Linked DNA regions of Homo sapiens. The protein of the gene in region 2 interacts with the protein of the main gene of each other region in a biochemical or structural test. Each region holds a gene or a part of one and is shown on either strand. Other genes may lie near its edges.

The links.
Region 1: the proteins of NEDD4 (region 2) and FGFR1 form a complex in vitro, tested with the Homo sapiens proteins (2 studies listed by BioGRID and IntAct, with this or other methods).

The regions. Positions count from the first base shown.
Region 1 is NC_000008.11:38,458,482-38,462,135, reverse strand, and holds part of FGFR1 (fibroblast growth factor receptor 1 isoform 1 precursor), read left to right. Parts: intron 1-880; exon of another isoform or gene 881-1,029; coding exon of another isoform or gene 1,030-1,040; intron 1,041-3,654. UniProt on the Homo sapiens protein: Tyrosine-protein kinase that acts as a cell-surface receptor for fibroblast growth factors and plays an essential role in the regulation of embryonic development, cell proliferation, differentiation and migration.
Region 2 is NC_000015.10:55,860,785-55,864,968, reverse strand, and holds part of NEDD4 (E3 ubiquitin-protein ligase NEDD4), read left to right. Parts: intron 1-1,889; coding exon 1,890-2,056; intron 2,057-4,184. UniProt on the Homo sapiens protein: E3 ubiquitin-protein ligase which accepts ubiquitin from an E2 ubiquitin-conjugating enzyme in the form of a thioester and then directly transfers the ubiquitin to targeted substrates. Specifically ubiquitinates 'Lys-63' in target proteins.

The DNA.
Region 1 (3,654 bases), on a different chromosome or scaffold from region 2:
TATAGAAATTATTGATGAGATACTTTACATTTTTTTCATAACAAGTTTTTAAGATGCGGTGTATACTTTTTACTTATAGCATATCCGTTAGCACCAGCCACATTTCAAGTGTGCAGTGGCCACTGTGTGGGCCACAGGTCTAGAATATAAGACATGAAGATGGAGAGTGAGAAATGCCTTTGGAAAGGTTGGAAGTTCCTGTCCTTCTGCTGCCAATTACCAAATCTCCTGAGAGTGCTATTAAGGAGTGACTCAAAGCACTACACAAAGAGAATTATAAATATCTTAATATTATATCTGAAATCCAAATGCATAATTCTTTACATTTGGTTGGTACTTTAGAGAGGAGAGAATGGGCACAGTCACCCACACCACCCATTTGAGCCTCATAATCACCTGTGATGTGGCTTCCTCTAGGTGGGAAACCGAGGCTTAGAACGGTTAAGTGACTATCCCAGGGTGGCAAGATCATAAGTGGAAGGGTGTGAATTCATACTGTCTCCAGCGGACAAGAATAAAAAGACCCAGGCTGGGTGTGGTGGCTCATGCCTGTAATCCCAGCACTTTGGGAGGCCACTGTAGGTGGATCTCCTGAGCCCAGGAGTTCATTACCAGCATGGGCAACATGGTGAGACCCCATTTTTATTAAATATACAGAAAATTAGCCCAGCTTCTCGGGAGGCTGAGGTGGGAGGATCACTTGAGTCTGGGGGATGGAGGTTGTAGTGAGTTGAGATCGTGCCACTGCACTCTAGCTTGGGTGACAGAGCAACACTCTGTCTCAGAAAGAATAAAAAGATTTGGCCATGAATTCGTCAGCTAGTTTTCCTTACATAATTTTTGGACAAGGAGATCTGACATTCATAGGTTTTTCTCTTAGAAGTGGGAGAGCTTCAAGGTCACGTGGTCCGTCCAGCCCCTGCTATCTCACCAGACACTGTCCACCCTGTATGTTGGATCAGTACTCCAGTGAGAAGACAGCAGGCACTTTCACCCATGCAGCCCATTCAGTCTTCATAACCACCTGTGATGGAGGCAAGGCAAGTATTTCAGCCCCCTCTGATGAGTGGGAAACTGAGATGTGCCCCCTCTCTGCTCCCCACCGAGGACCTCTGCATGCAGGCATGAATCCCAGGAGCCTAGCTGATATTGGAGAGACGGGGCGGGGGGAACCAGCTGCAGGGTCTTGGAGGAAGCTGCTGTGTACACCTGCAAGGCTGCAGGTTACATCTATCTGTCAAGCAGTGAAGGAAGGAAGTTGTTTCTAAGGGATTGGAAAAATTCATTAATTAGTAGAATGAGAAACTGAGGTGAAGCAGGAGGTGGCAGGGTCCCAGACAGCATGTTGGACTAGTGGCCTGTGTCACTGTGTTTTTTGCAGGCGGGTGGCATGGGGTGTATGCTGACTTCTTATTCCAGGAGTTGGTGCCAGGAGGCCAGGTTTTCTTAACATCCTTGTTTTACAGATGTCAAACTTGAGGGCCAGAGGGGTAGGAGAGGAAGAGACTTTTTGTACCTTTTTTGGGAAAGAACAAGAGGGAAGCTGGCAGATGAATTTGAAGTGCATTGACCAGGGAGCTGAGAGAGGGCGGTCTGCAGCCAGCCCACACCTGGGAGGAGGCGGCAGGCTTTTCTGGGGACAGAGTGGCCAAGTCGAAGCAAGCTTAACCATCTCAACATGACACCACTCTTTCCCATTGGAACCTGAGAACTTGTTCAGTATTCTGACACTTAGCAAGGGACCTGGGTTTTCTTGGTCAGGTGTGCGTTTCTGGGTGACAGGCCTGCATCAGGTGTATTTTCGGGATGTAGTAAGTTGTGGAATATGGGTTTAGGGGCATCCTCTGGCAAGCACTGCTTCTATCCCAGCTCTGGGAATGTGCCCCATGCAGTGTCCTAGATGGCCCATCTGTGGTCTGCTTCCAAGGGTCTTTCTTTTAGTTAGTTAGTTTTGAGACAGAGTCTCACTCCGTCACCCAGGCTGGAGTGCAGTGATGCAATCTCGGCTCACTGCAACCTCCACCTCCCAAATTCAAGCAATTCTCATGCGTTAGCCTCCTGAGTAGCTGGGATTACAGGCGTGCACCACCACACCCAGCTAATTTTTGTATTTTTAGTAGACGAGGAATTTCACCATGTTGGCCAGTCTGGTCTCAACTCCCCACCTCAGGTGATACTCCCGCCTCAGCCTCCCAAAGTCCCGGGATTGTAGGTATGAGCCAACATGCCCTGGCACAAGGGTCTATCTTTGACCAATGGAACTGCAAATCAAGCCTCTTTTGTTACCAGAGTTACCTTGGATTTACCCTTATCTACTTGGTTTGGATAAATTGAGTTTGCATCAGATGGAGTCAGGCTTGATCAATCCCTTATTTACTTCCTCCCACCCTGTTCTCTAATATCCAAAAACCTTGAGGCACTATTACATGCTAGCTACATTTCCTTGAGTAAAGTACTTAACCTCTTTGAGCCTCAGTTTCTCCATTGCATAAAAGGAATAATAAAACTTATCCCCCATAAGTTTATAGTGAGGAATGAATTAATTCCTCACTATAGTTCTAAATTAATTCTACTTAGGGCATCCTTGGTACATAGTGGGTGTTCAGTATTCATTTCATTTTCTCTTTTCTGATTCCTTTCGTAAAAGTAGAAAAATGAAAGAGAAATGTTGACTTCTCTTTTGATTTGAAATCATTAAAACATTTTAGTAAGCCTTGGGAGGGAGCTAGTGGTGTGGCATGTGTATCCCGCTGGCCAAGCACATGTGAACGAAGCCAAGAATCCAGGGGCTTTTCTGCCAGCCAGCACTGACTCACTTGCGAGGGGCCCTGCCTGGCTCGGGGGAGGCAGGGCTGAAGTACCACATTAGGGCATGTTCCGGGGAAGTAGATTCTCTGAATAACTTGGATGGCTCCCTGGAGCATTTAGGACAGAAGCCACCTGGAAAATAGAGATGGTCACCCCCACGTAGCCTTGACAGTGCCCAGAAAGTCTTGTCACTTGGTAAATGTTAACAGCTATGATCCGTTCTTTAAGACCCTGGGGAGTTTTAAGTTTTACCCCACCAGACCTGAGAAGGGTAAAGGGCTGCAGATTCTGTTCTTTTAACTGGGGCCAGTGTGAGCCATCTTTGACTCAGTGCTTGCAATAGACCTTGATTCTGCAGTGGGACCTCCCAGGCCCCCTTGCCCCCCGCAACTTCTGGACTCATATCCGTCAGACATCACTTGTCACCTTCCAGCATCAGGGAGAACTGGATCCCTCCTGGCTCCACACTCTTAGGCTCTTTGTAAGTAGCTGGTGAGGGTTTTCTTCTCTCTGCAAGGGAGGCTGGTAGAACTATGGATGTGATTCGTACAATTTTAGAGACAAAAAGAAAGTACCCAGGAGGTCATTTATTTCAGCTGCTTCATTGCATAGGTCGGGGAGTTGAGCATGGAGTCCAGCAGCTACTAACTAGTTATCTCTGTACCTGGCTTCCATTTACTGGTCCTTAGCTTGTTCCGTGATTCTTCATTGCCCCTTATTTCTCACCAGAGGGACTGGTTGGCCCTAGATGGAGTGGTCTTTTTAAAATTTTTTTTTTAAATTTTTTGAGACAGAGTCTCACTCTGTCACCTAGGCTGTAGTGCAGTGCTGCGATCTCGGCTCACT
Region 2 (4,184 bases):
ACCTCAGCTTCCCAAAGTGCTGAGATTGCAGGCATGAACCACTGTGCCTGGCCGGAATTCCTATAAAGTTGAGTTTCTTTCTGGGCAAATCTATTGAGCTGCCTGTCGATGCATGCACCAGAACCACACAGCTTTAATTGTTGTCATTTATAATGTGTTTTTATCTGGTAGGGTTGATCTTCACTTCTTGCTTTTCTTTTTAAAAATTGTGCTGCTTATTCCTGCTTGTTTATGTTTCTGTTGAACTTGAGAGTTGCCTCGTATCTTTTTTTTTTTTTTTTCTTATGAGACAGAGTTTCACTCTTGTTGTCCAGGCTGGAGTGCAATGGCGTGATTTCGGCTCACCATCACCTCCGCCTCTCGGGTTCAAGTGATTCTCCTGCCTCAGCCTCCCGAATAACTGGGATTTACAGGCATGCGCCACCACACCTGGCTAATTTTGTATTTTTAGTAGAGATGGGGTTTCTCCATGTTGGTCAGGCTGGTCTCAAACTCCCTACTTCAAGTGATCTGCCCGCCTCGGCCTCCCAAAGTGCTGGAATTATAGGCCTGAGCCACCGCACCTGGCCTATTTTTTTTTTTAATCATAATACAGTTTTGTTGGAATCTTGGCAAATTTATAGATTAACTTGGGAAGAATTGACACCTTTGTGAGACTGAGTCTTCCCAGCCAAGAACAGACTATGTCTTTCCCTTATTTAGGTCTTCTTTTGTGTCCTTTTGGGAGCATTTTAAAGTTTTCTTCACCAGTTTATTTCAGTTTCTAATGCTTTCCTAACCAATCAGTATTTAATAGAATCTTTGACCTACTGCCTTTTCTTTTGTGAGGTTTCTCATATAAAAGCATTAACTCTTGCTACTCTTTTCTATCAATTCCTTACTTTAACTGCCCTAAGGCTTTATGTTAATTTTGCCCCTTGTTAATCTCTGAGAAACCAAACTTCTCAGTGCATTTTTTAAAAATCTTTCTTTGGCTGTTTTATGACTTGATAAAATGCCTTGCCTTGGTCCAGAGGAGAAAGAGAGAAATCAGACAAGGGAATGAGAATGACTTTTCCATCACTAGAGAGTTCACTGTAGCAGTTATTTCTAAATCATTTGCCTTCCCCATCTTGCCCCTTTGTATATTTGACCTTTATCAAATGATTTTTTCCATGTGTCAGATAGTTATTGATTTCTACCGTAAGCAAGGTGCTTTCTCTGTAGGAAAGACAATGACCAATAAGAAATAATCCTTGCCCTTCATTCAGTTGATAATTTAGAGAACAGCCTAAGATTACACTAGTAGTTTAAACTATACTTCTCAATTTCTCAGTACTTTCCAACTTTCCGTGGTTGTTTATTTAAACGATTTTTTGTCCTTTTTTTCTATTAGATTTTTTAAAATTTTATTTTTGATTGACAATAATTGTATATATTTATGGAGGACAATGTGATGTTTTGATATATACTTACAATGCAAAATGATTAAATCAGGCTAATTAATCTCATTAAATCACCTCACATACTTTTATTACTTTTTTGTTATGAAAATTTTAAATAGATTTGTTTTAAAGTTCTGTTTTATTGTTGTTTTGAGATGGGATCTGGTTCTGTCACCCAGGAAGAACCTGGTGGAAACTTTACAGGCTTGTGCCTTTAAAGTTTTTTTTGAAAAATTTTTAGACAATTTTAAACAAAATTTAAATGGTTATCATTTTTGCAAAAAGAGTCTTCATTATCATAAAGTATTTACATTATGGTCTTAAAAGTTGAGGATTGTTTATTCTGTCTATGCATAATTTCTAAAACTTGATATAATAAATCTCTTTTTAAATTTCCTTTAGCATATAATTTAGAAAGTTAAAAAAATCATGCGTAAACTTAATTGCTGCCATCCTGTTTTTCAGCCTGGCTGGGTTGTTTTGGACCAACCAGATGCTGCTTGCCATTTGCAGCAACAACAAGAACCTTCTCCTCTACCTCCAGGGTGGGAAGAGAGGCAGGATATCCTTGGAAGGACCTATTATGTAAACCATGAATCTAGAAGAACACAGTGGAAAAGACCAACCCCTCAGTATGTGCTGATGGCTTTCACAATTTTAATCTGGAAACACTTTAACTACGAATTTTCATTTTGAAGTCATGTCTCAGATGGATTCATAACAGTATAGTGATCCATAAACTATAAGAATACTAGGATTTTTATTGCCCAGGACTTTAAAAATCCTAACTCTGCTGTTTCGTTTTTTAAATGACTTGATAATATTCAAAATTACTTGACTCTAGATACTACCCTTTTAATTGCGTCTTAATTTTAATAGGTTTTTAATTTTATGTAGCCACAAATGGTAGATTTTTATTTTTAGGCTGAATTAGAAGTCTTGGAGAATTCTTGTAGTTTGTTATTAAAATGTAATAAAATGTTAATTTCTATAGTACTCTATTTTTAAAATATAAATTATTTGTAAAATATAAAGGACTCAATAATAAGGGTATTACGTTAAACGCGCATTTGACAGTCTGGTCAATGTCCACATAACTTCCAGCACGCACAGATCAAGGACGGAATGACTTTCAACATATTCTAACTTCTGTCTCCTCAGTGATTTTTTTTATTATTAGACTGTATATACATTTATAAAATCTCCCATTATTCATATTTATTCTCAAATCCCCTTCCATTTTTCCTTCCATATAGTCTTATAAAGTCTTCCTTTAGTCTTCTGTTTGAAACATACTCGTAATTTTTTAATGTGTTCATTAGCCTCCTAATTTTTGGCTATGATATTTTGTGCCTGATATATGCCAAGCACTTTTACAGATATTTTCTGTTCTCAAATCCTTCCAAAACAAATCAGCAATTCAAGTACTTCATGGCACAGAAGCTTCAGTCTTCATAGAGTGACGTACAGACTGCAAAGCTGAAGACACTATAAAATTCTGTAGAATTGCGCTGTTGCATACCTCAGTATTATGGCAAGCCTTACATGAGCAAAATCACAGTTCTTTCACTGTGGCTGATGTCATTTTCAGGTAGCCAAAATCATATATTTAGGGGGAAAAAAACTGAAGCATTCCCTTAGAGCCATGTATCAAAATTATGTTTTCTTTAGCTACGGTACAGTAAGAACTGGTCTTCTGACTAGCCTGAGCTCATGTCGCATTAAATAAACAGTAATTTTATTATTAAATATTTGAACAAAATTCTTGATCTGATAGACTGGTTATATTAAATGCAAATAATTAGAATAATATAAATGACTGGGGTAAGGGTGTTCAATCTGATTTTTTTTAATTTTAATTTCTGTGGGTCCCTAGTAGGTATATATGTTTGTGGGGTACATGAGAGGTTTTGATACAGGCATGCAAGGCATAATAATCACATCATGTAAAATGGGGTATCCATCCTCACAAGCCTTTATCCTTTTTGTTACAAACAATCCAATTATAGTCTTCTGGTTGTTTTTAAATGTACAATTAAATTATTATTGACTGTAGTCACCTGTTAAGCTATTAAATACTAGGTCTTATTCATTCTTTCTGTTTTTTTTAATACTCATTAACCGTCCAATCTGATTTATTGTACCTCTCCTAAGCTCAGACAAATCTTTACTATTACCTTTTTCAGGACAGGCCCATGACTGTATATTACGAAAAACAGATACCATTACTAATAGATATGTAATTCCTAAACCATTAAGCTTTTCATTATAAAGTTCTTACACCATCTTTCATTCTGCCCTTCACATTCATGCATGGAGTACTCTACTCCTGGCTTAAGACCAATTCTAGAAAATGTACTATCTGATTCACAAAGATGTATGTATGTGTAACTCTATTACTCTTATAATAACATGGCAAAATAATACAATGAAATAATCTATGAAGCGCTCTGATATTTATTCATTCAACAAATATTTTTGAGTACCTATATGTGTTGGACATTATCCTAGACATAGTGACAAACTAAAATATCAAATCAGACATGTTATACCTTTTCACAAAACCTTAAACTCCGTAAGGTACTCTAAATATACCAGTCTGCCTACCCATGATTGAATCTTTGCATGTTGAAATAGCCTTTGGTCAAAGACAATAAATTTTTTTATTGATGTAATGTAGATTTTTTTCCCAATGATCACAGAATCTTTGACAATCATTTTAACTACTTAAGACATGGATGATGGCTTTTTATACTTCCA